3 separate regions of the Homo sapiens genome follow, and regions 2 and 3 are each linked to region 1. Evidence: fine-mapped expression QTL. A gene starts in region 1. Each other region holds a variant in brackets. All regions are shown on one strand. Distances are from middle to middle.

The links. PIP is the estimated chance that this variant, and not a neighbour inherited with it, causes the effect. A credible set is the group of variants that fine-mapping cannot tell apart.
Region 2: its variant is the best candidate, but not a certain one, in a credible set for the expression of VKORC1 in whole blood (TOPMed, PIP 0.51).
Region 3: its variant is the best candidate, but not a certain one, in a credible set for the expression of VKORC1 in cerebral cortex (GTEx, PIP 0.63).

The regions. Positions count from the first base shown.
Region 1 is chr16:31,089,462-31,100,357 of GRCh38, forward strand. It overlaps VKORC1 (vitamin K epoxide reductase complex subunit 1), which reads right to left and starts at 5,336. Exons shown (of 3, transcript NM_024006.6): 1 at 5,096-5,336; 2 at 3,851-3,960; 3 at 1,393-1,881. The coding sequence starts at 5,268. The coding sequence ends at 1,673. It overlaps LOC124903680 (zinc finger protein ENSP00000375192-like), which reads right to left and starts at 6,544. Exons shown (of 1, transcript XM_047435012.1): 1 at 5,423-6,544. The coding sequence starts at 5,917. The coding sequence ends at 5,423. RefSeq lists enhancers at 3,561-4,269, 5,450-5,629, 5,660-5,709, 5,760-5,809, 6,325-6,504.
Region 2 is chr16:30,934,765-30,939,764 of GRCh38, forward strand. All of the region lies in intron 7 of FBXL19 (F-box and leucine rich repeat protein 19), which reads left to right. Among named protein-coding and RNA genes, the nearest start is that of ORAI3, 12 kb to the right of the region's middle. RefSeq lists an enhancer at 364-658. The variant C/CTCCT (reference allele first, on the strand shown) is at 2,202.
Region 3 is chr16:31,367,535-31,378,430 of GRCh38, forward strand. ITGAX (integrin subunit alpha X) reads left to right here. Exons shown (of 30, transcript NM_000887.5): 15 at 3,550-3,680; 16 at 3,800-3,963; 17 at 4,096-4,250; 18 at 4,844-4,975; 19 at 5,063-5,136; 20 at 5,715-5,856; 21 at 9,265-9,381; 22 at 9,466-9,545; 23 at 9,648-9,731. Among named protein-coding and RNA genes, the nearest start is that of ITGAX, 18 kb to the left of the region's middle. RefSeq lists an enhancer at 1,025-1,631. The variant T/C (reference allele first, on the strand shown) is at 5,699.

The DNA.
Region 1 (10,896 bases):
TGGCGCGTGCCTCCTCTTCCTCTTCCCACTCCTAACTCAGGCTGGCCCAGACCATTCAAGAACCCTGACCCCAAGACAGAGGCAGCTGTGGGTAAGGTTTAGCATATATTATAGATGCTGGCCGGGCATGGTGGCTCACGCCTGTAATCCCAGCACTTTGGGAGGCCAAAGCAGGCAGATCACCTGAGGTCGGGAGTGCGAGACCAGCCTGACCAACATAGAGAAACACTGTCTCTACTAAAAATACAAAATTAGCCAGGCCTGGTGGCGCATGCCTGTAATCCCAGCTACTCGGGAGGCTGAGGCAGGAGAATCACTTGAACCTGGGAGGTGGAGGTTGTGGTGAGCCGAAATTGTGCCATTGCACTCCAGCCTGGACAACAAGAGCGAAAGTCCGTCTCAAAAACAAACCAACAAAAAAAAAAGCATATAGATGCTGGAGCCAGATGGACCAGGTGGATTCAAATCCTGAGAGCCTCCTGCAGTAGCTGTGTGATCTCAGGCATACTAATTAGCCACTCTGTCCCTATCATCAAGATAGGGATAATAATAGTACCCACCTCATAAATCACTGTAAAGATTAAACGAGTTTAACACGTTAACACAAGTTTTTTTTTGTTTTTTGTTTTTTTTTGGAGACGGTCTTGCTCTGTTGCTCAGGCTGGAGTGCAGTGATCATGGCTCACTGCAGCCTCAACCTTCTGGGCTCAAGCAGTCTTCCCGCCAGCTTCCCGATTAGTTGGGACTATAGGTACATACACCACCATGCCTGGCTAATTTTTTTTTTTTTTTTTTTTTGTAGAGACAGGGGTCTCACTATTTTGCCCAGGCTGGTCTGGAACTCCTGGCCTCAAGTGATCCTCCTGCCTTGGCCTCCCAAAGTACAGGGATTACAGGTGTGAGCCACTGCACCCTGCCAACACAAGTTCTTAAACAGTGCTTGGCATGTAGGTAAGTGGTCAGGGCATAATAGGCAAAACAAAAACCTTCACAACCTGGCCCTGACCCTCCAAGGCTACCAATACTGGCTTGGAATGGTCGATAAGGCAACTGGAGGGGTTAAAGTTAAACTCAAGGAAGAACTTCCCAGCAAGCATTTACAGAACCAGAAGGGCAGCCTGCCCTTCCAGGTGTGTGCTCAGCCTTCCCAGGAGAGGAGGCCTGGCTCCTGTGGGCAGCAGGAGCGAGCTGCCAGCCTGTTTCCTGGGGGTGGGGGCCAATGGTGCCCCAGGCCTTGCTGACTCCACACACTGGAGATGAGACTACCCATAACCACCCTTCCCAGCAGGCCCTCCACTCTCCCTCTGACTCACCCTTCCCAGCTCCAGAGAAGGCAACACCGAGGGAGGCCCAGCACCACAGTCCATGGCAGACACATGGTTCAGACTTGGCTGATTGATCTAAGAAACTTTATTGCTCAGAACCTTCCCTCCCTGGGCAATGGAAAGAGCTTTGGAGACCAGCCCATGGGGACAGAGTCAGAGGCACTGGGTGTAAAAAAGAGCGAGCGTGTGGCACATTTGGTCCATTGTCATGTGCGGGTATGGCAGGAGGAGGGGGTAATCTAGAAGCCCCACATCTAGGGCCTTCTAGGGACCCAGATATGCCCCCTTAGGCAAGGCTCACATGCCAAAGCAAAGCAGATGAGGTCAGCCTGGCTTGGGTTGAGGGCTCAGTGCCTCTTAGCCTTGCCCTGGGGTTCTTGGACCTTCCGGAAACTGAGCCACATCAGGCTCACGTTGATAGCATAGGTGGTGATACAAACAATGCAGAAATCATAGAGCACGAAGAACAGGATCCAGGCCAGGTAGACAGAACCAGCGAGAGACACCAGGGAGCTCAGCAGCATCAGGACAGAGGCCCAGCGTGTCCGCAGGCAACCTGCAAGGCAGAAGAGGGTCCGGTGTGGGCTTCAGGCACTGGCCACCTCCCGAACACTCCATGATGTCACTGCACTACCTAGATGCCAGGAGCTGCTGGGAAGGGTCTCTAAAACAAGAGGCTCCAGGGCAGATGTGGTGGCTTACGCACGTATTCCAAACACTCTGGGAGGCCGAGGTGGGAAGACTGCTTTAGGCTAGGAGTTCAAGACCAGCTTGGGCAACATAGAAAGACCCGATCTCTATCAAAAATTTAGAAATTCAGCTGGGCACGGTGGCTCATGCCTGTAATCCCAGTATTTTGGGAGGCCAATGGGGGTGGATCACCTGAGGTTAGGAGTTCGAGAGCAGCCTGGCCAACATGGCAAAACCCCATCTCTAATAAAAATACAAAAATTAGCCGGGTGTGTTGATGGGCACCTGTAATCCCAGCTGCTGGGGAGGCTAAGGTGGAGAATCGCTTGAACCTAGGAGGTGGAGGTTGCAGTGAGCCGAGATCATGCCACCACATTCCAGCTTGGGCAGCAAGAGCAAGACTTCGTCTCAAAAAAAAAATGCCCGGTGAGGTTGACTCACGCCTGTAATCCTAGCACTTTGGGAGGCCAAGGCGGATGGATCACCAGGTCAAGAGATTGAGACCATCCTAGCCAACATGGTGAAACCCTGTCTCCACTAAAAATACAAAAATTAGCTGGGCGTGGTGACACGCGCCTGTAGTCCCAGCTACTCAGGAGGCTGAGGCAGGAAAATTGCTTGAACCCGGGAGGCAGAGGTTGCAGTGAGCCAAGATCGTGCCACTGCACTCCAGCCTGGTGACAGAGCGAGACTATGTCGCAAAAAAAAAAAAAAAAAAAAAAAAAAAATTAGCTGGGTGCAGTGACATGCCTATAGTCCTAGCTACTCAGGAGGATCGCTTGAGCCAGGTTACAGTGAGCTATGATTGTGCCACTGCACTCCAGCCTGGGCAACAGAGCAAGATTATTTCTTAAAAAAAAAAAAAAAGAAGGCTTCAACAGGTCCCCTCCAAGGGACTGGTCTCTGAAGCTCTTGCCATTGCCCAGGGAGGGAAAGTTCTGAGCAATAAAATTTCTTAAATAAATCGGCCAAGTCTGAACCATGTGTCAGCCAGGACCATGGTGCTGGGCCTCCCTCAGTGATGCCTTCTCTGGAGCTGGGAAGGGTGACTCAAAGGGAGCGTGGGAGCCTGCTGGGAAGGGTGGTAATGGATAGTCTCATCTCCGGCATATGGCATCAGCAAGGCCTGGGGCGCCATCGTCTTCCACTCCCTTGGTTCCTCTCTCTGTTCTTATGGGACTAGATACAAATTTTCCTGCTGAGCACTAAATGAGACAAAAGATAGCTCATGCTCAGCTTCTCCTTAAAAAGGAATTTCGGCATCTTTTCCACAAAACTGGGGTGTTGGTGGGGCATGGTAGCTCACGCCTGTAATCCCCCCAGCACTTTGGGAGGCTGAGGCAGACAGATTGCTTGAGACCAGCCTGGGCAACATGGCGAGACACCATCTCTACCAAAAAAAAACAAAAACAAAAATTAGCTGGGCATAGTGGTGCACGCCTGTGATTCCAGCTGCTTGGGAGGCTAAGGTGGGAGGATCCCTTGGGCAGGGAGGCAGAGGTTGCCATGAACTGAGATCACGCCAGTGCACACTAAGGGCATCCTAGACCTCACTTTGGGCAACAGAGCCAGACCCTGTCTCAAAACAACAACAAACAAAAAACCTGGGGACCTAGGATGTCTTTAAGGGCCCTTCAGCCTCTAACAGTACTTAAACCAATTAAAAGACTCCTGTTAGTTACCTCCCCACATCCCCACCCGCAGGACGCTCCGTGATGAGCAGCTAGCTGGCTGTCAGCTGTGTGGATCACCAAGATTGCATGGAGTGGGGCTGAGCTGACCAAGGGGGATGAGGGGCGGGGCGGGGCGGGCAGGGAGGGGGCGGAGCCACTCACCTAACAATAGCTGTAGTGTGTAGAAGATGCAACCGAATATGCTGTTGGATTGATTGAGGATGCTGTCCTGTCCCAGCACATGCTCCACCAGCCCGAAACCCCTGCCCCACCTGGCAGAGGGGTGGGGTGGGGTGGAACCAGGTTAGGACTGTCAACCCAGTGCCTTGGACCCTGCCCGAGAAAGGTGATTTCCAAGAAGCCACCTGGGCTATCCTCTGTTCCCCGACCTCCCATCCTAGTCCAAGGGTCGATGATCTCCTGGCACCGGGCACCTTTGGCCACGTCAGGATTCCATGTCACTGACCCTATCCTCCCCTCTCCCCAGACCAGGCCCGGACGTGGCTACTCCGTAGGCCCTGCTTTTCATCTTAGACCTTAAGTAAGTCTCTTTTTTTTTTTTTTTTTTTTTTTTTTTGAGACGGAGTCTCACTCTGGCCCAGGCTGGAGTGCAGTGGCGCGATCTCGGCTCACTGAAACCTCCGCCTCCCGGGTTCAAGCGATTCTCCTGCCTTAGCCCCCCCGAGTAGCTGGGATTAAGGCACCCGCCATAGCGCCCGATTAATTTTTCTATTTTTGGTAGAGACAGGCTTTCACCATGTTGGCCAGGCTGGTCAACTCCTGACTTCAAGTGATCCATCCGCCTCGGCCTCCCAAAGTGCTGGGATTACAGGAGTGGGCCACCGCGCCCGGCCCTTAAGTAATTCTTAAAATGGCAAGGCTGGTATAACGGTTCACTCGGTTTTGCATCAGAGACTGGGAGTCGGGGGCAGATTATCTTTGCCCTGGACCCCAGAATCTCCAGCTCCCTGGCCACTCACTCGCCTCCTCTGTATTCCGTCATTATGCTAACGCCTGGCCATCACGCACAGCCAGACCGGGCCACCTTGTTCCTGGGCGCAGCCATCGCCAACACCCCCCTTCACCTGCGCGCCGTCCTTGAGACCATCGTCAATCTCTACCGCCATCCTGCCTCCCCGCCTTTCCTGGTCACCGTTATTCCTTGGCATCCAATTCACGTGCGAGTCCCCGGAATAATCCCAGTCCCCAGCACTGTCTGGTCCCTTGCCTCGCACTCTTATTTCGAACACCAGTATCGCTGGGTAGCTCAGCCCCTGTGCAACGACCCCGCGAGCAGTCCAGCCCCGTGTCCGTTCCCCGGGCACACCGATCCCAGACTCCAGAATAATCATCTGGCATCCTGGCCGCCCTGCTCCGAGGCCCCACGCCTCCCACTCCCGTGCACACCTGGAGGAGAAGACGCGCGAACAGCTGATGGCGGTGCCCACGTCGCAGAGCGCGCGGTAATCCCGGTCCCGGGCGCGCGCCGCCTTCACGTGCAGCGCGTAGAGCGAGAGCACTAAGCCCGTCAGGCAAAGAGCGAGCCGCACCCAGCCAGGGCTCCCCCAGGTGCTGCCCATTATCTCCAGGTTCCGCCCGAGGCGCCCGCGGAGAAAACCAGCCACGGAGCAGGGGCCGGGCGGCGAATGGCCGCGCCCCTCCTGGCCCTCTGACTCGGCGATTGGCCGGCCGTGCTCGCACTCCACGACCCAAATGGCTGTTCCAGGGCGCTAGTCAAGCGGGCGAGTTAGGAAAACAGCGAAGAATGCCGGGACTAGTGAAGCGGGTAAGGGACGTGCGGAATCGCGGCCCCAGCGGCTGCCAGGCATGATGGGAGTTGTAGTCGGCGCGGCTGCAAGGCATCAAGGGAAATGAAGTCTCCACAGATTTAAAAACTGTTGGCCGGGCACGGTGGCTCACGCTTGTAATCCCAGCACTTTGGGAGGCCGAGGCTGGCGGATTACCTGAGGTCAGGAGTTCAAGACCAGCCTCGCCAACATGGTGAAACCCCATCTCAACTAAAAATACAAAAATTAGCCGGGCGTGGTGGCACATGCCTGTAATCCCAGCTACTCGGGAGGCTGAGGCAGGAGAATTGCTTGAGCCGGGGAGCCGGAGGTTGCAGTGAGCCGAGATCGTGCCACTGCACTCCAGCCAGGCCGACAGAGTGAGACTCTGTCTCAAAAAAAAAAAAGAAAAAAAAAAGTGTGTTAGTGTGGTTAACAGCATTTGCGCTTACCCTATGCCAAGTCCTGTTGTAAGAATTGCAGCATCCGGGACCTAGAGACCAGCGGATCAGGGGATCCAGCGAATACGGCGATCCGATTCGGGAACCAAGCATTTCCCCTGAAACTATTTCAGGCACCATTCGGGCTGCAGCCTCCCATCCTCCCGGGTCCTGCCTCACCAGTGCTTCCTGGTGGTCGGTCTCCCTTTCTCCCATACATTCACAGAACCACTCCTTTGGCCACACACACCCTTGACAGTATCCTAACCTCTCTACTATCATGGCGCCCGCCTGGCAACACCTGAGCTTGCATCAACTCAACAGTCAGTCTCTCCTTTCCAAGCTGTGGGCCAGATGAGGTCTCTCCTTCACAGACGTCCCATCTGATGGTGACCCATCTCTCCTACACCTTCAACCTCTCCATCCTCCCCATCTACACTGCAACTTGTTTCTCTTTCCCATCTCAGAAACAGCAACAAATCTCCCTTCACTAAGAGGTCCTTCACCAGCCTCCTCTCCCGGCATTATCCCATCTACCCCTCCACATTCAAGTTTTTGGAAAGATTCTACACTCCCAGTCTCTACTTCCTCACTTCTTCCTTGCTGCCCACGCCATAAACTAGCTGCTGCCTCCAGCATTGCCCTGACACCTAGTGGCTGGTGTCACCAAGACGCTAGACCCAATGGTTATTTATTTATTTATTTACTTATTTTGAGACGGAGTCTCACTCTGTCGCCCAGGCTGGAGTGCAGCGGTGCCATCTCGGCTCACTGCAACTTCCGCCTCCAGGGTTCAAGTGGTTCTCGTGCCTCAGCCTCCCAAGTAGTTTGGACTACAGGTGCCTGCCACCATGTCTGGCTAATTTTTGTATTTTTAGTAGAGACAGGGTTTCACCATGTTGGCCAGGCTTGTCTTAAACTCCTGACCTCAAGTGATCCACCCACCTCGGCCTCCCAAAATGCTAGGATTATAGGCGTGAGCCACCGCACCCGGCCAATGGTTGTTTTTCAGGTCTTCTCTTGCTTGACTTCCCAGAGGGATCCCTTACTGTTGCACCTACCCTTCTGGGAACTCTCTTCCTCTGGCGTCTGTGATATTTCCCTCTCCTGCTGGCTCCTCCCTCTCCAGATGCTGTTTCTCACATCTACTCTCTTCTAGAGAGTGTGGTAGACAGAATAATGGTCACCAAAGATGTCCCTGCATGAATCCCTGGAACTTGTGAATATGATAGGTTAAATGGCCAAAAGGGAATTAAGGTTGCAGATGGAATTAAGCTGACCAATCTCCTGATTTTATTTTATTTTATTTTGTTTTTGAGGTGGAGTTTCGCTCTTGTTGCCCAACTGGAGTGCAATGGTGTGATCTCGGCTCACTGCAACCTCCGCCTGCCAGGTTCGAGAGATTCTCCTGCCTCAGCCTCCCGAGTAGCTGGGATTACAGGCACCCGCCATCATGCCTGGCTAATTTTTTAAATTTTTAGTAGAGACAGGGTTTCGCTATATTGGCCAGGCTGGTCTTGAACTCCTGACCTCAGGTGATCCGCCCACCTCGGCCTCCCAAAGTGCTGGGATTACAGGCGTGAGCCACCGTGCCCAGCCTATCTATCTATTTATTTATTTATTTTTGAGATGGAGTTTTGCTCTTGTTGCCCAGGCTAGAATGCAATGGTGCTATCTCGACTCACCGCAACCTCCACCTCCCCGGTTAAAGCGATTCTCCTGCCTCAGGCTCCTGAGTAGCTGGGATTATAGGCATGTGCCACCACGCCTGGCTAATTTTTTGTATTTTTAGTAGAGATGGGGTTTCTCCATGTTGGTCAGGCTGGTCTCAAACTCCTGACCTCAGATGATCCACCCACCTGGGCCTCCCAAAGTGCTGGGATTATAGGCGTGAGCCATCATACCAGGCTCTATTGATTTATTTTTATTTTTATTTTTGAGACGGAGTCTCGCTCTGTTGCCTAGGCTGGAGTGCAGTGGCACAATCTTGGCTCATTATAACTTCCGCCCCCCCCCAGGTTCAAGCCATTCTCCTGCCTCAGCCTCCCGAGCAGTTGGGACTACAGGCGCGTGCAACCATGCCTGGCTAATTTTTGTATTTTTAGTAGAGACGGGGTTTCACTGTGTTGGCCAGGCTGGTCTCGAACTCCTGACTTTGTGATCTGCCTGCCTCAGCCTCCCAAAGTGCTGGGATTACAAGTGTAAGCCACCACGCCCAGCCTATTTTGTTTATTTTTTCAAAGACCCTTGACACCCAGGCTGGAGTGTAGTGGCACTGTCATAACTCACTGCAACCTCCGTCTCCCAGGTTCAAGCGATTCTTGCACCTCAGCCTCCCTAGTAGCTAGGAGTACAAGTACGTCCCACCACACCTGGCTAATTTATTTTTATTTTTGTAGAGATGGGGTCTCACTTTGTTTCCCAGGCTGGTCTAAACTTCTGGTTTCAAGCAACCTTCCCACCTCAAAGTGCTGGGAGTACAGGCATGAGCCACCACCACACCTGGCCTAATTTGCTGATTTTTATTTATTTTTTATTATTTATCTTAATTTTTATTTTGAGACAGAGTCTTGCTCTGTCATCCAGGCTGGAGTACGGTGGTGCAATCTCAGCTCACTGCAACCTCCCCCTCTCGGGTTCAAGCAATTCTTGTGCCTCAACCTCCCAAGTAGCTGGGATTATAGGTGCTGGCCACCACGCCTGACTAATTATTGTAATTTTTTTTTTTTTTAGTAGAGACGGGATTTCACCATGTTGGCCAGGCTGGTCTTGAACTCCTGACCTCAAGTGATCCACCTGCCTCAGCCTCTCAAAGTATGGGGATTACGGGTGTGAGCCGCCGTGCCTGGCCCAATTTTTGTATTTTCAGTGGAGATGGGGTTTTGCCATGTTGGCCAGGCTGGTCTGGAACTCCTGACCTCAGGTGACCCGCCTGCCTCCGCCTCTCAAAGTGCTGGGATTACAGGCATAAGCCACCATGCCTGGCCCACAGGGGTCCTTAAAAAATGAAGGAGGATGGCAGAAGAAAGTCAGAGGGAGATGTGAGTAAAGAAAAAAGACACAGAGAGCTGCAATGTTTCTGGTTTGAAGATGGAGGAAGGGGATTGTGAGCTAATAAATACGGGTGGCCTCTAAAGGCAAGAAAGGGTAAAGAACTGGATTCTCACTCTAGAGTCACCGGGAAGGAACTATCAACATCTTGATTTCAGCCCAGTGAGACTCTGTCAGACTTCTAAGCTACAGAACTGTAAGATAAATTTGTGTTGTTTTACATCATTAAATGTGCAGTAACTTGTTACAGCAGCAATTAGAAATGAATACAGAGGACTGGGCATTAGGCCTGTATCTCAGCTTTCTCTGATCTCCTGGTGTGTTCCTGTTATTTATTGTTGGTTTCCCCCAGAATGAGTGATCTAAGAGGAAGCAAAATAGAAGCCGCAATCTCTTTATGACTTAGCCTCAGAAGACACACACTGGGGCCAGGTGCAGTGGCTTATGCCTATAATCCCAGCACTTTGGGAGGCTGAGGCAGGAGGACCACTTGAGCCCAGGAGTTTGAGACACCCTGGACAACACAGGGAGACCCTCACTCTATAAAAAATAAACAAAATTAGCCAGGTGTGGTGGTGCACACCTGTAGTCCCAGAACTTTGGGAGGCTGAGACAAGACAATGACTTGAGCCCAGGAGTTTGAGACAGGTCTGGACAACGTGGTAAGACTCTGTCTTTATAAACATTTTTAAAATTAGGCGGGGCATGGTGGCTCATGCCTGTAATCCCAGCAATTTGGGAGGCTGAGGTGGGTGGATCACCTGAGGTCAGGAGTTTAAGACAAGCTTGGCCAACATGGCGAAACCTCGTCTCTACTAAAAATACAAAAATTAGCCGGGCATGGTGGTGGGTGCCTGTAATCCCAGCTACTCAGGAGGCTGAGGCAGGAGAATCATTTGAACCCGGGAGGTGGAAGTTGTAGTGAGCCGAGATTGCCTTCCTCACTCCAAGAGTTATAAAAGATTTTGACCATATTTTCTTCTAGCATTTAATCAATTAATTAATTAATGTGAGACAGTCCCACTCTGCTGCCCAGGCTGAAATGCAGTGGTGCAATCTCGGCTCACTGCAACCTCTGCCTCCCGGATTCAAGTGATTCTCCTGCCTTAGCCTCCTGAGTAGCTGTGATTACAGGCACCAGCCACTATGCGTGGCTGATTTTTGTGTTTTTAGTAGAGACGGGGTTTCACCATATTGGCCAGGCTGGTCTCAAACTCCTGACCTCATGATCCGCCCTCCTTGGCTTCCTAAAGTGCTGGGATTACAGGCGTGAGCCACTGTGCCTGGCCTTTTTCTTTCTTTTTTTTTTTTTTTCATTAGAGATGAGTTGTTGTTATGTTGCCTCTAACTCCTGGGCTCAAGCAGTTCTCCCACCCTGGCTTCCCAAAGTGCTGCTGGGATTACAGGAGTGAGCCACTGCCCCCAGCCTCTGACAGTTTTTGTGCACTAGGAATTTGGGAAGACAATTTTACCTGGCTATTTCTGGCTCATACAATTGCAGTCAGATGGTGGCTAAAGCTGGAACAATAAGCAGCTAAAACAGCTGAAAGATAACCTAGCATTCTCTCTCCCTTTCTCTGAGTAGTCTCCGAACCTATCTATGTTGTCCTCTGCATGGGCTAGCTTGGGCTTCCTCACAGCATGGCAGCCTTAAGGCTTTAATAGTCAGCTTCCAAAATGGTCCTCAGTGATTCCTGCTTCCTGGTATTGATACCATTGTGAAGTCTCTTCTCACATTGAAAGGGGCTGAACTGGCCCATTGGGATAATGCAGAAATGACAGTGTGTGACTTTAGAGGCTAAATCATGAAGATATTGTGGCTTCCATCTTGCTCCTTTGTAGATCACTCATTCTAGACAAAGCCAGCTACCATGATATGAAAGCACTCAAGTAACCCTAGGGAGAGAGGTCTCCTTAGTGAGGAACTGAG
Region 2 (5,000 bases), 160 kb before region 1:
ATTCCCCAGGCTCAGGAGGAGCAGTTTCCAGGAAGGTAAAGAGCTCAGATGACTGACGTGTGTGGTGTGCTCAGGACGTGTGGGTCTGATGCTCAGGAGAAAGATACACGTTTGGGAGTTCTCAGCCTGTAGGTAGCAAGCCAAGCAGCTTTGATGAAGAGGGCAAAAGATCATACATCAGTACTTGTGAGTTAGAGCAAGAGCCTAGCCAGATAATTGGAGGAGCTCATGGCCAGAGGTGTGCCCCCGAGTAGAGAACGAGGCAGGAGGGAATGTGGTAAGCCAAGGAGGATGCTGGTGAGAGGCCGTGGGAGATCAAGGACCAGGAAGTGGTGGTTGGATTTTGCTACCAGGAGGCCTTAGTGTCCTCAGCTGTGCTCTGGGGGTTGGGGGTCCAAAGCCAGATTGAATGGAGTCGAGAACATCAGCTTCCAGGCAGGGACTTGATTCGTTTGTTCCTGTTGTGTTCCTGGTGTCTAATGGCACCTGGCGGACAGTGGGCAGTGAGATCATCTTCGCTGAATGAGTGAAGGACAAGAGAGCAGGATGCAGTGTGGAAGGATGTACAGAGGGTGGCGCTGGAGAGGCGTGTGTAGGGGACAGCAGGAGGCTGCAGGCTTTCCTGTCTGGTGGCTTCCATCTTTTCTTGGAACTGAAAGGGAAGTGATCCCTTAAGAGTGAAGAGTGAAGAGTGGAGAGAGGGCAGCAGGGAAGGCGTGCAGGGGTTATTGAGATGCAAGGAAGAGGGTTGGGGCTTTTGAGGACATGGACAGAGAGAAGGCAGCAAGGAAGGGACTGGAATACAAGGTGATCATGGTCGGGTAGGGTCTGGAGGTGGACAGATTGGAGGGCAGTGGTAGCATCGGGGCCCAGAGAGCTACAAGAGGTCGGAACTGGCAGTGCTTGGAGCCCTAGGGGCCGTGAGCCTTCAGAGGGCAGTAAGGGCTGGTCCAGCTCCCTGTTCCCGGGGGCTTCTGCAAGAGGGAGGGTTAGGATTGGAATTGAGGGTTTGCAGGTCGGCCTAGTAGGAGAGGACTCATTGCGGGGTGGCTGGAGTCCAGGAGGAAGTGAATGGGTTAGGGGACTTTGGCATCAAGCCACATGTCTCTGGGACGACGGCACACCTTGGCTCTTAGAGCTTTCCCTGCCTCTTGTCTCAGTGTCATTCTCCAGCTTAGAAAGAACCCACCTGTGGCTCCCTGTCGCCCTCACAACAGACGCCCACCATCGCAGTCCTGTTGGACATATGGACATGAACTGGGCCTACCGACTGCACCAACCACTTCCCTGAGCTGTGTCCCTTCCTTGTCACAGCAACCTCTGAAGGAAGCGCTGTTCTTCACCCCACTGTACAGTTTGGGAAATGGAAGCCCACACAGGGCGAGTGACTTGCCTGAGGCCCCCCAAAGCCTGGAGGTGGCAGAGCTGGGATTTAGATCCCCATAGCTCACATCCTCAGCTCTGGGCTCTGTGACCATGATAGTCTATGGCCTGGCATTCCAGCCCTCCTTGACATGACACCCATCCCTCCTTTGCAGCTCCACTCTTGCCTCTTCTCTCCTCAGAATTCAGGCTTTCCACCCAGACGGGCTAGGTGGAACCCCGCCTCTACTACCTACCACTTGGTAGTTGTGGGACCTTGAATACATTTCTCAACCTTTCTGGGCCTCATTTTTTTTTTTTTTTTTGAGACGGAGTCTCACTCTGTCACCCAGGCTGGCGACAATCTCGGCTCACTGCAAGCTCCGCCTCCCGGATTCACGCCATTCTCCTGCCTCAGCCTCCTGAGTAACTGGGACTACAGGTGCCTGCCACCACGCCTGGCTAATTTTTTTTCTTTTTTTTTTTTTTTTTTTGTTTTTTAGTAGAGACGGGGTTTCACCATGTTAGCCAGGATGGTCTCGACCTCCTGACCTCATGATCCACCTGCCTCAGCCTCCCAAAGTGCTGGGATTACAGGCGTGAGCCAGCGCGCCCGACCTTTTTTTTTTTTTTTGAGGCAGAGTCTGACTCTGTTACCCAGGCTGGAGTGGAATGCTGTGGTCTCGGCTCACTGCAACCTCTGCCTCCTGGGTTCAAGTGATTCTCCTGCCTCAGCCTCCTGAGTAGCTGGGACTGCAGGCGCGTGCCACCACACCCAGCTAATTTTTGTATTTTTAGTAGAGACGAGGTTTCACTATGTTGGCCAGGCTGGTCTTGAA[C/CTCCT]TCCTGACCTCGTGATCCGCCCTCCTTGGCCTCCCAAAGTGCTGGGATTAACAGGCGTGAGCCACCGCACACGCTTGCCTCATTTTCTTTACTGTAGAAAGGAGATGATGATGGTAATGTTGACCTCCTAGGGCTGGCGTGAGGTTCAGTGCTTAATGCATGGGACAGTGCCTGGCACACAGTGAACCCTGGATGATGGCTGGTTAGTAGTGCTGAAGTCACTGTGATCAGCGTGACTCTGGTTATGATGATGAGTTCCTGTGGCCTGGGGTTTCCAGAGCTCTCCGTCTTGTCTCTTGTGGGCCTGGACACAGGTTCTTGCCCATCTGGAACACACACCCTCCTCCCCCTCCCCTTGCTGAAATAACTACTGCTTTCCTCGGAGTCTCAGGTCAGGCATTGTCCCCCCAGGAGGCTCCCCCACCCAGTCCTTGAGGTGACTCTTACCATGCCCCTTGTCACCTCAGTTACTGCGGACTGTCCATGTCTCCCTGACTGTATGGCAGGAACCTGTCATCTTTGCCTCCTCCGTGCCCAGTGGAAGCCAGATACTTGGGATCAGTAGGGCCCTCAGTGACTGTTGGTTGTCCCTCTGAGGTTTAACCCCAGTGTCCTGGTTGTACAAGAGCAGGGGGACTGATGAGCTGTAGCCAAGGAAGGTGTGGGAGACTTCCTGGAAGAGGAGGCACTGGAGCCGAGCCACGAAGGCTCTGGGTTGGCATTTCTGGCAGAGGCACAGCATGTGCCACAACGTGTTGGCATCAGACAGCACTGTGTCTATAGGTGGGCAGGTGTGTGGCCTGGCTGTTGTGGAGTATGATACAGAAACACAACTGGGGTCCTGTGGGTGCCCCCAGGGAAAGGGGCTTCCTTCCAGCTGTGGACCGTGGAAGGGAAGTGGCTTCAAGGAAGTGGTGACAGTTAAGCTGGGAGGCAGTCGTGGCAGGGTCACAGTGGGCAGAGAGAGGTTTTGGATAGAGCAGATGTCACCGATTTTCTTGCTCACAGAAAGAGCAAAGGGGCAGGACCTAGGGGTAGAAGCTGGGTCGGGCATGAGTTGGTTTTTTTCCTTTTCATGTTTTGAATTGGAGAGATTTGCAGATGTTTATTAGTTGAGAGGAAGGAATCAGGAGAGGGAGAGGCTAGAATGCCAGAAAAGCAGGATGAGGGTAGGAGGGAACAGGAGAGCGAGTGGCAGAGGGGTGAAGGTGTTCGGACTGAAGCCTTGGTGTCTGTGCCCTCAGCCTTCTCTAAAACGTCACACCAGGGCTGGGCCCAGTGGCTCACGCCTGTAATCCCAGCACTTTGGGAGGCTGAGGCAGGAGAATTGCTTGAGCCCAGGGGTTCAAGACAAGCTTGGGCAACATAGTGAGACCCCCATCTCTATTAAAAAAGAAAAAATTAGCTAAGCATACCTGTGGTCCCAGCCACATGGGAGGCTGAGGCAAGGGGATCACTTGAGCCCAGGAGTTTGAGGCTGCAGTGAGCTATGATTGCATCACTGAGCTCTAGCCTGGGCGACAGTGAGACTTTGTCTGAAAAAAATAATGAAATGACACACTGGGCCTCTGGAGTAGGTCTGGCATTTTTCAGTGACACAAAAATATGGCTTAATCCCTCTGTGAGTTTTGGAAAGGAAGTCTTTCCATTGGAAGGAAGTCTCTCCATCGGGTGCTTTTTTTCTTTTTTGAGATGGAGTCTTGCTCTGTCGCCCAGGCTGGAGTGCAGTGGTGCAGTCTCGGCTCACTGCCAGCTCCGCCTCCTGGGTTCACGCCATTCTCCTGCCTCAGCCTCCTGAGTAGCTGGGACTACAGGCGCCTGCCACCACGCCCGGCTAATCTTTTGTATTTTTAGCAGATACGAGGTTTCACCGTATTAGCCAGGATGGTCTCCATCTCCTGATCTCGTGATCCGCCTGCCTCGGCCTCCCAAAGTGCTGGGATTACAGGCGTGAGCCACTGCGCCTGGCCACTATTGGGTGCTTTTTCTAACACTTCTCTGATACTTATCTCCCTGTTTAACAAAAGTAGTCTTCAGGTAGTAGCCTAAAGCCACAGCAACACCTGGCTAGGATTTAATAACTCTGGTCTTTTTTGTGTTTTATTTATTTATTTATTTATTTTTGAGACAGAGTCTCGCTCTGTCACCCAGGCTGGAGTGCAGTGGCGCAATCTCGGCTTACTGCAAGCTCCGCCTCCCAGGTTCATGCCATTCTCCTGCCTTAGCCTCCCAAGTAGCTGGGACTACAGGTGCCCGCCACCACGCCCGGCTAATTTTTTGTATTTTTAGTAGAGATGGGGTTTCACCGTGTTAGCCAGGATGGTCTCAATCTCCTGACCTCGTGATCTGTCCACCTTGGCCTCCCAAAGTGCTGGGATTACACCACACTTGGACTTTTGTGTTTATTTTTAAGATTAACATATTTATGTGAAACAATACTGGGGTTTTTTTTTTTGTTTTTTTTTTGAGACGGAGTCTCGCTCTGTCGCCCAGGCTGGAGTGCAGTGGCACGATCTCGGCTCACTGCAAGCTCCACCTCCCAGATTCACGCCATTCTCCTGCCTCAGCCTCCCGAGTATCTGGGACTACAGGCGCCCTCCACCACGCCCAGCTAATTTTTTGTATTTTTTTTTTAGTAGAGACGGGGTTTCACTGTGTTAGCCTGGATGGTCTTGATCTCCTGACCTAGTGATCCACCCACCTCGGCCTCCCAAAGTGCTGGGATTACACGCATGAGCCACCGCGCCCGGCAACAATACTGGTTTTAAGTGCAAAGAGGAGATGATTCAAAGATAAATC
Region 3 (10,896 bases), 280 kb after region 1:
TCTAGAAATGGAACAAAGCTGGGGTGACAGCACATCTGTTTATAGCATGCTTGACTGAGTGTTTTAAGCCCATTCTGGAGACCTGCTGCTCAGAAAAATAGATTTCTTTCCAAAGTTTGCTGCTTATTGACAGTGCACCTGATCACCCAAGAGCTCTGATGGAGATGTTCAAGGAGATTAGTGTTGTTTCCATGCCTGCAAACACAACACCCATTCTGCAGTCCATGGACCAAGGAGTAATTTCGACTTTCAAGTCTCATTATTTCAGAAATACATTTCATAAGGCTATAGCTGCCATAGATAGTGATTCTTCTGATGGATCTGGGCAAAGTCAATTGAAAACCTTCTGGAAAAAAATTCACCATTTTAGATGCCATTAAGAACATTCATGATTCATCAGAGGGGGTCAAAATATCAACATTAACACGAGTTCGGGAGAAGCTGATTCTGATTCTCATGGATGACTTTGAGTGGCTCAAGGCTTCAGGGGAGGAAGTGATTGCGGATGTGTGGAAATAGAGAACCAGAATTAGAAGTGGAGCCTGAATTGCTGCAGTCTCATGATGAAACTTGCACAGATGAGGACCTGCTTCTTACAGATGAGGAAAGAAAGTGTTTTTTTTTTTTTTCAGATGGAATCTATTCCTGGTGAAGATGATATAAATATTGTTGAAATGACAACACAAGATTAAGAATATTACATAATCCCAGCACTTAGGGAGGCTGAGGTGGGCAGACCACCTGAGGTCAGGAGTTCAAGACCAGCCTGGCCTACATAGGGAAACCTCTCTACTAAACATCTCTACTAAAAAAATTAGCTGGGTGTGGTGGCAGATGTCTGTAATCCCAGCTACTCAGGAGGCTGAGGCAGGAGAATCGCTTGAACCCCTCAGGCAAAGGTTGCAGTGAGCCGAGATCACACCACTGCACTCTAGCCTGGGCGACAGAGTGAAAGTGTGTCTCAAAAAAAAAAAAAAAAAGAATATTATATAAACGTAGTTGATAAATCAGCATAGAATTTGAGAGAATTGACTCCAACTTTCTTTTTTTATTTTTTATTTTTTATTTATTTTTTTATTTTTTATTTTTTTTATTGATCATTCTTGGGTGTTTCTCGCAGAGGGGGATTTCGCAGGGTCATAGGACAATAGTGGAGGGAAGGTCAGCAGATAAACAAGTGAACAAAGGTCTCTGGTTTTCCCAGGCAGAGGACCCTGCGGCCTTCCGCAGTGTTTGTGTCCCTGGGTACTTGAGATTAGGGAGTGGTGATGACTCTTAACGAGCATGCTGCCTTCAAGCATCTGTTTAACAAAGCACATCTTGCACCGCCCTTAATCCATTTAACCCTGAGTGGACACAGCACATGTTTCAGAGAGCACAGGGTTGGGGGTAAGGTCACAGATCAAGAGGATCCCAAGGCAGAAGAATTTTTCTTAGTACAGAACAAAATGAAAAATCTCCCATGTCTACTTCTTTCTACACAGACACGGCAACCATCCGATTTCTCAATCTTTTCCCCACCTTTCCCCCCTTTCGATTCCACAAAACCGCCATTGTCATCATGGCCCGTTCTCAATGAGCTGTTGGGTACACCTCCCAGACGGGGTGGTGGCCGGGCAGAGGGGCTCCTCACTTCCCAGTAGGGGCGGCCGGGCAGAGGTGCCCCTCACCTCCCGGACGGGGCGGCTGGCCGGGCGGGGGGCTGACCCCCCCACCTCCCTCCTGGACGAGGCAGCTGGCCGGGCGGGGGGCTGACCCCCCCCCCCACCTCCCTCCCGGACGGGGCAGCTGGCCGGGCAGAGGGTCTCCTCACTTCCCAGTAGGGGCGGCCGGGCAGAGGCGCCCCTCACCTCCCGGACGACTCCAACTTTCAAAGAAGCTCTACTGTGGCCAAATGTTATCAACCAGCATCGCATGCTCCAGAGAAATTTCATGAAAGGAAGAGTCCATCCAGGCAGCAAACTTCCTCACGGTCTTATTTTAGGAAATTGCCATAGCCACCCCAACCTCCAGCAGTTGCCACTGTGATCAGTCAGCCGTGTCACCATCAGGCAAGACCCTCCACCAGCAAAAAGATTATGCCTTGCTAAAGGCTTAAACGATTGTTAGCATTTTTTACCAATCAAATATTTTATTTTTATTTTTGAACTTTTAGATTTAGAGGGGGTACACCTAGCCTTTCTAGACTCCCTCAGTAATTGGTAAATTTCTCTTTTTATTTTGTTATTATTCCTTTTTTTCTTTTCTTTTTTTTAATTTTTATTTTTTAGAGACAGAATCTCATCATGTCACTCAGGCTGGAGTTCAGTGGCGCAATCATAGCTGACTGCAGCCTCGAACTCCTGGACTGAAGAGATCCTCCTGCCAAAGACTCCTGAGTAGCTGGGACCACAGGCACAAAGCCAGTGTGCCCTGCCCATTATTATTACCTTTTTTTTTGAGACAGAGTCTCGCTCTGTCACCCAGACTGGAGCACAGTGGTGCAATCTCCGCTCACTGCAACCTCTGCCTCCCGGGTTCAAGTGATTCTCCTGCCTCAGCCTCCTGAGCAGCTTGGATTGCAGGTATGTGCCATCATGCCCAGCTAATTTTTGTTTATTTAGTAGAAACGGGGTTTCACCATGTTGGCCAGGCTGGTCTGGAACTCCTGACCTCAGATGACCCACCCGCCTCGGCCTCCCAAAGTGTTGGGATTACAGGTGTGAGCCACCGCGTCCAGCCATTATTATCACTTTTAATGGCTGCTAGTTCCAGGGTGCACAGAGATTTAAAGGGCACATTCTTCCAGGGATTGGGCATAACATGAGCACTGGGAATGAAGGTGATAGGTTCTACAGGGGAGGCAGTGCCTGGGAGGGTGGATCTGGGTGTGGGTGCGACCACTCCCTACCCCACCGCGGCTTTTTCTTGTCCTTTGAAGAGACAGAGTGACAGCAAGAAACAAAAAGGGGACTTGGGCCTGGGGTTGGACGGTCTGGTGTTAGGTCTGCAGTCAGCCTCTTAAAGGCTACCTGGGGTTGACACTGTCCCCAACCTCTCTCCTGCATCTTTGCAACGAGGGAGGTGAGGTTGGACAAACTCTGAGGTCCCTTTCAGCCTTAATACTCATTGTGATATATTATTGACTGCTGGCTGTATCCTGGGTGCTGTTCTAAGAACCGTAGGAATTCCTCTCCTGAGCATGGCTAAACTCTGAGCTAATAGTATCATTATATGAAAGATGAGGAAACGGAGGCACAGACAGATTGAGTCCTTGCCCACGGCCTCGTGGCTCATACGTGGAGGAGTCAGAATTGGAACTAGAGACTGATCGAATGAATGACACTCGGGTCACCAGGACACCCTTCCTATCTCCACTCTTACATCTGTTTCTTAGCAATCATCTCCCAACTCCTACCTCCTCTTTTCAGGTTCTTCTTGGTGACATCTGTTCACAACTCACCCCTTCTCTCCCTTTCCGATGGTCCTACCTCCATATTCCCCTTGTTACTTATTTCCAACTTCTTCCCCTACTTTCCATCTTGATTCACCCTTCTCTCCTCTGGCCAGCGGATCGCGGGCTCCCAGCTCTCCTCCAGGCTGCAGTATTTTGGGCAGGCACTGAGCGGGGGTCAAGACCTCACCCAGGATGGACTGGTGGACCTGGCTGTGGGGGCCCGGGGCCAGGTGCTCCTGCTCAGGTGAGAGCAGCCTTTCTCAGAGGCTCCCCAGGTGGTCCTAGGTTCAGATGGGGGTGCCCACCCCACGTGGTGCTCCCAGGAGCCGACGGCCTGTCCTCAGCTCGGTGCTCTGCCCGCAGGACCAGACCTGTGCTCTGGGTGGGGGTGAGCATGCAGTTCATACCTGCCGAGATCCCCAGGTCTGCGTTTGAGTGTCGGGAGCAGGTGGTCTCTGAGCAGACCCTGGTACAGTCCAACATCTGCCTTTACATTGACAAACGTTCTAAGAACCTGCTTGGGAGCCGTGAGTCCCCTCCCCTCCAACCCAGGACACCCTGACCTCTGGAGTCCCCCATCCCAGGCCCCTGTCTCCCACCCTGCTCATTGTCCACCCAAGGAGTTCCTGTCTCAACGCCGTCCCTGCGACCGCCTACAGGTGACCTCCAAAGCTCTGTGACCTTGGACCTGGCCCTCGACCCTGGCCGCCTGAGTCCCCGTGCCACCTTCCAGGAAACAAAGAACCGGAGTCTGAGCCGAGTCCGAGTCCTCGGGCTGAAGGCACACTGTGAAAACTTCAACCTGCTGCTCCCGGTGCGTCTGGGCATGAACGTGGGTGGCGGCCGCGCTGGGGCTGGCAGAAGGCAGGGCAGGGAGAGAACAGGCTGTGTTCCGGCCTCCCTGTGGCTCAGCCCAGCACAGGACCAGCCATGCAGGACGTGCTTACTGCACGTTAGCCAGTGAGTGAGTGAGCGAGCAAACAAGTGATGAGATCGGCTGCAATTTCCAGGGGCCACACGATTGGATTTCAGGAAAGAGAATTGGGCAACCTGAGAGAGCTCTGGGGCTTCCGGCTGGGCTTTTTTTCAGGCATTCACTGGACAGGGGTTTATCGAGCTGCTCCTGGGAGACAGGCCTTGCCCTGGGGGCCAGGGGCATAGGTGGCCAAAACAGTCATTGCTGATCGGGAGGTCTGGGGGGGGGGAGGAAAAAAACAAAGACAAACAAGGGGAGAGAACAGAGAGGGTGTCAGGGAGGCCTCCTGAAGGCGGTGACGCTGAGCAGGCTCTGGAGGAAGCTGAAGCCGCGCGGGAGCTGGGCAGAGGCAGGATAAGAACTGCGGATGAGGCCGAGCGCAGCTCTTACCCTCCCCTTACCCTCCGCTCCCCGCGACGCCCGTCCCCCAGAGCTGCGTGGAGGACTCTGTGACCCCCATTACCTTGCGTCTGAACTTCACGCTGGTGGGCAAGCCCCTCCTTGCCTTCAGAAACCTGCGGCCTATGCTGGCCGCCGATGCTCAGAGATACTTCACGGCCTCCGTGAGTCCTGGCACTGGGTCTCCCAGAGAGGGTGCACAGCGTGGGGCCTGGGTCTCGGAGAAAACCCCCCGTTGCCTTCCCACGCAGCTACCCTTTGAGAAGAACTGTGGAGCCGACCATATCTGCCAGGACAATCTCGGCATCTCCTTCAGCTTCCCAGGGTGAGCGCCCCCACCTTAGACCTGCCCTACTGCCCCAGCCTCCTTCCTGGAATCTGGGACTCCTGCCTCTGGCTCTCCCTAACATTGTCTCATCCTATAGTCAAAACCCAGGTGTCTTGGCTGGGCACAGTGGCTCACGCCTGTAATCCCAGCACTTTGGGAGGCCGAGGTGGGAGGATCTTTTGAGGCCAGGAGTTAGGGATCAGCCTGGGCAACAGAGCGAGATCCCATTTCCACAAAAACAAAACAACAACAACAACAACAACAACAACATCACTTGAGTGTGGTAGAGCATGCCTATAGTCCCAGCTACTTGGGAGGCTGAAGCTTAAGGATTGCTTGAGCTCTGGAGTTGGAGGCTGCAGTGAGCCATAATCACACCACTGCACTCCAGCCTGGGTGAAAGAGCAGGACTCTGTCTCTTAAAAAAAAAGAAGAAGAAGAAGAAGAAGAAGAAGAAGAACCCAGGGGTCCGTCCCCTGTCTATCTCCCAAATCCCCACCCACCCCATTTTATCCCAGACCATTTCTAGCCTCAGTCACAGAATCATCTTCTCCTTTCC[T/C]TCACCTGATACCCAGCTTGAAGTCCCTGCTGGTGGGGAGTAACCTGGAGCTGAACGCAGAAGTGATGGTGTGGAATGACGGGGAAGACTCCTACGGAACCACCATCACCTTCTCCCACCCCGCAGGACTGTCCTACCGCTACGTGGCAGAGGGCCAGGTGCACCCTCTGGGGAAGGAGGAGGAGGCAGGGCTGGGCGTTAGCGTAGATTCCCGTGCGGTTCAGAACCCGGGCTGGGCTTGGAGGTGGTAGTGCCATCTGGGGCACGCCTCTGCTCGTGTGGGTGTTCAACTTTGGGCATCGCAGTTTAAGGACACTGACTATCAGGAATGATTTCCTGAGAGGCCACTAATGTGGAGACAGAGGGGAACCTGCCCAAATTTCTTTCTATTCCATATTATATCAGTATTCCTCTTTTAAATGAAAACATACCTCAGCCTTCAAATATTTTAAAACACTGTTCTGTAGAAGCAAGGGGTTGAATTTATTGGTCACTCTACATTAAGGCTTGGCGACCTTTTTCTATAAAGGGCTAGATAGTAAATATTTCAGCTTCGTGGTCTGCGTGGTCTGTGTCACAGCTGCTAACCTCTGGTGTTGTGGAATGAAAGCAGCCATTGACATGAATGAGTTTATGAGTGAATATACCTGCGATGCAGTAAAACTTTATAAAAATAGGTAGTGGCTGTTGGTTGCCAATCCCTGCTTTAAAATGCAGAACTAGGACCACGGGGAGTCAAAGAGAACCAGATTTTTTAAACAAAGATGTTATTATGGCTGGGAGTGGTGGCTCACGCCTGTAATCCCAGGACTTCGGGAGGTTGAGGCAGGCGGATCACCGGAGGTCAGGAGTTTGAGACCAGCCTGGCCAACATGGTGAAACCCCATCTCTACGAAAAATACAAAAATTAGCTGGGTGTGGTGGCAGGTGCCTGTGATCCCAGCTACTGGGGAGGCCGAGGTGAGAGAACTGCTTGAACCCGGAAGACGGAGGTTGCAGTGAGCTGAGATTGTGCCACTGCACTCCAGCCTGCACAACAGAGCAAGACTCTGTCTAAAAAAAAAAAGTTATTATGAAAAATTTAAAACATTTACAAAAGTAGAAAGTAGTTCAACAAACCTCCCCAAAACTTGTCACCTAGATTCAACAATTAGCAGCATTTTGCCACATTTGTTTCATCAATTTTTCCCCTTTGCTAAGGTATTTTCTTTATTTCTTTATTTTTGAGACAGGGTTTTGCTCTGTCACACAGGCTGGAGTGCAGTGGCACAATTTCAGCTTACTGTAGCCTTGACCTCCTGGGCTCAAGCGATCCTCCCATCTCAGCCTCCTGAGTAGCTAGAACCACATGCACACACCACCACACCTGGCTAATTTTTTAATTTTTTTTGTAGAGTTGGGGTCTTACCATGCTGCCCAAACTGGTCTCTAACCCCTGGGTTCAAGCAGTCCTCCTATCTTAGCTTCCCAAAGTGTTGGAGTTACAGACATGAGCCACTGTGCCTGACCTGCTAAAGTATTTTAAAACAAATCTCAGACATGGGGGTCATTGTACTCCTCCTTATTCACTCTGCTATGGTTTGAATGCATCACCCAATGTTCGTGTGTTGGACACTTAATCCCCAATGCAACAGTGTTGAAAGGTGAAACCTTTTAAAGGTGATTAGGTTATGAGGGCTTTGCCCTCATGAATGGATGAATACTATTATCTCAAGAGTAGATTAGTTATTTCAGGAGTGGGTTTCCTTCCTTCCTTTCTTCTTTCTTTTTCTTTCTTTCTTTTCCTTCTTTCTTTCTTTCCTTGAGAGGGTCTTGCTCTGTTGCCCAGGCTAGGGTGCAGTGGCACGATCTTGGCTCACTGCAGCCTCTGCCTCCCGAATTCAAGCAATTCTTGTGCCTCAGCCTCCTGAGTAGCTGGGATTACAGGTGCCCACTGCCACGCCCAGCTAAGTTTTGCATTTTTAGTAGAGATGGGGTTTCACCATGTTGGGCAGTCTGGTCTTGAACTCCTGACCTCAAATGATCCACCCGATTCGGCCTCCCAAAGTACTAGGATTACAGGCGTAAGCCACGGAGCCTAGCCCAGGAGTGGGTTTCTAATTAAAGGATGAGTTTGGCCCCCTTTCCCTCTCACTCTCACATGCACTGCCTTGCACATGCAGCACAAAGGCCCTCACCAGATGCTGGTGCCATGTTCTTGGACTTCCCAGCCTCCAGAACCACAAAGCTTCTATTGATACATTACCTAGTTTGCGGTAATCTGTTATAGCAGCAGGGAACAGACAAAGACACACTCTATAGTTCTGAACAATGAGGACCTCTTATATGACCTCAACACCATTATCACACCCAATGAAATAAGTGATTCCTTGGTATTAAGATCATAGTCAAAATTGTGTAACTGTCTCAAAAATATCTTTTTACTTCTGGTCTATTTGAACGAAAATTCGAACTAGGTCCATACATGATGGTTGGTTGTTATTTCTGCTGTCTCTCTTAGTCTAATATTCCCAGCGGAAGCGCATTTTGATTAACGTATAAAAGAACACAGCAGGAAAGGCCATCTCTTGCATGTGAGGGGTGATCACTGTCAATGAAAGTGCTCCTAGACATATCAACCAAATGTAATGGGTGGACCTTTGCTGAATATTGATTTTAACAAATGAGCTGTAAAATAACATTTTTGGAGACAATCTAAGAAAATAGAACATGACCAGTATATTGGTATATTAAGGAGTAATTGTTAATTTTGTTGGCTGTGATTTGTTGGTTCTTGTGGTTACATTTAAAATACCCTTATCTATTGGTGGTATACACTGAAGTATTTCTAGATGAAACAATATGGTGTTTGGAATGTGCTTTAAAGTGTTCAGAAAGAGAACATAGCAGAAACAAGAGTAGAAAAATGTTGGTTACTTAAAATGAGTGATGGTTATATGGGGTTGATTTTCCAGTCTCTCTATTTTTTAATGTGTTTTAAATTTTCCATTATAAGAGGCCTTTAAAATAACAATAAAAAGGTGAACATTTTAATACATTTGAGATTTCTACTTTGGAAGAAAGTTTGACCAGATAGCTATGGGGGAGCTTTTAAAAACGTAACCTTGGCTGGACATGGTGGCTCATACCTGTAATCCTAGTGTTTTGGGGGGACAAGATGGGAGGATTGCTTGAGGCCAGGAGTTCAAGACCAGCCTGGGCAATATAGCGAGGTCCCATTTATAAAAAAATTTTTTTAAAATTAGCCAGGCATGGTGGTGGTGTGTGCCTGTAGTCCTAGCTACTCAGGAGGCTGAGGCAAGAGGATGGCTTGAGGCCAGAGTTTGAGGCTGCAGTGAGCTGTGATTGCATCACTGCTTTCTAGCCTGGGTGACAGAGTGAGACCTGGTCTCAAAAAACAAACAAACAAACAAAAACATAAGCTTAAGGTGGGCTCCAGGAAGCTTTATCACTACTTCGTGGCGTGTCTTTGGAATGCTGTTATATTAGGTTGGTGCAAAAGTAATTGGGTTTTTGCCATTGCTTTCAATTTCAACTAATACTCCTCTACTTTTTCTCATGCCTAGAAACAAGGGCAGCTGCGTTCCCTGCACCTGACATGTGACAGCGCCCCAGTTGGGAGCCAGGGCACCTGGAGCACCAGCTGCAGAATCAACCACCTCATCTTCCGTGGCGGCGCCCAGGTCAGCCTGGCTTCTGTCCCCTCACTGCTCCCCTGCCCCACCCTGTCTTTACTGCTCTGTGACCTCTCAGTTCCTTTTCCTCAGATCACCTTCTTGGCTACCTTTGACGTCTCCCCCAAGGCTGTCCTGGGAGACCGGCTGCTTCTGACAGCCAATGTGAGCAGGTGAGCCGGGCCAGGCCAGGGGCAGTGCCCCTCATCTCCAGCCTCACACCCCATTCTCCTCCTCTGGGGCCTCTGGCAACTGAGTCTCTCCTCTTTCTCCAGTGAGAACAACACTCCCAGGACCAGCAAGACCACCTTCCAGCTGGAGCTCCCGGTGAAGTATGCTGTCTACACTGTGGTTAGCAGGTCAGCAGGTACCCCACTGCAGGAAAAAGGGTTCTTCTCTCTGACCTCAAAAAGAAAAAAAAAAAAAGGCCTTGAAACGCTGCCACAGAGGGTGAGATAAGGTGTTTGAAACTAAAAGGTCAGGTGTTTCAGCAGACACCTTCCTTCAGCCAATGCCTTCCTCGAATTTGCTGTGTGCCAGGCAGGGTGCTGTGGTTATTTTCCATACATTCATTTGACATTCATTGAAGATTTACTGAGCCCCCATTATGTGTGATCAAAACCAGACATGAACCCTCGCCCTTGTGGGGTGTGCCTTGCTGGATGTTCTCCTGTGCCTGGTGTTTCCCACTCTCACCTGCACCTGCATGCGTGGAGGCTCCCAGCCAGGTGCACGCTCTGAGCTCGTGTGCTGGGGTGTGCCCCAGGCTCTCATACCCCTTGGCAGGGGACCCACAGGCAGGGCTCACCTACTCTAGGCATGTGTGGTCCACAGCTTGGCCACACATGGCAGGTGTGATCCACAGCTTGGCCACACATGGCAGGTGTGACTCTGTGGGTTAGGGCACAGGGAGTGCCAGGTTGGGGCATTTCTGGGGGAGGCCAAGGTGGGAGGATTGCTTGAGGCCAGGAGTTCAGGATCAGCCTGGGCAATATAGTGAGACCCTAGCTCTACAAAAAATTGGCAGAGGAGGAATGAGGCTTCAGAGTAGGCGTGGTGGGCTGGTGTTTGGACTATGCCAGCTGGAGGACAGGTGCCGGAAGAGTGAAGCAGTGAGGCAGTGGTGAGACTGGCCACCTGTGTGATGGTCCCAGCTGCCCACCAGGTCTCCAGGCTTGTGCCCAAAAAGGGCTCAGGAGGTGTTAAACTGAGACCTCATGAAGAGTCTGCTGTGGGCCCTCCCTCCCCTCCAAGCCCCAGGCCCGGAAAAGCCAAGGAAATGGGAAAAAAGGGCCCCCGGGGAGGTATGTGGGGGACTGGGAAGGGGCAATGCTCAGTAGCATTTGGTCAACAGCGTCAGCCTGGGCCACCCCAACTCTGTGCTGTGTCCCACAGAGCCCTGGCATCCTACATCCCCACAAAGGGATGGAAGGAAAGCGGAGGGGCAGGCCATGGCCCCTGCTCTCCTGCAGTCAGTGGCAGAGCTCTCTGCTCCGTTCATTGTACCGACTACCCGGCCCCACT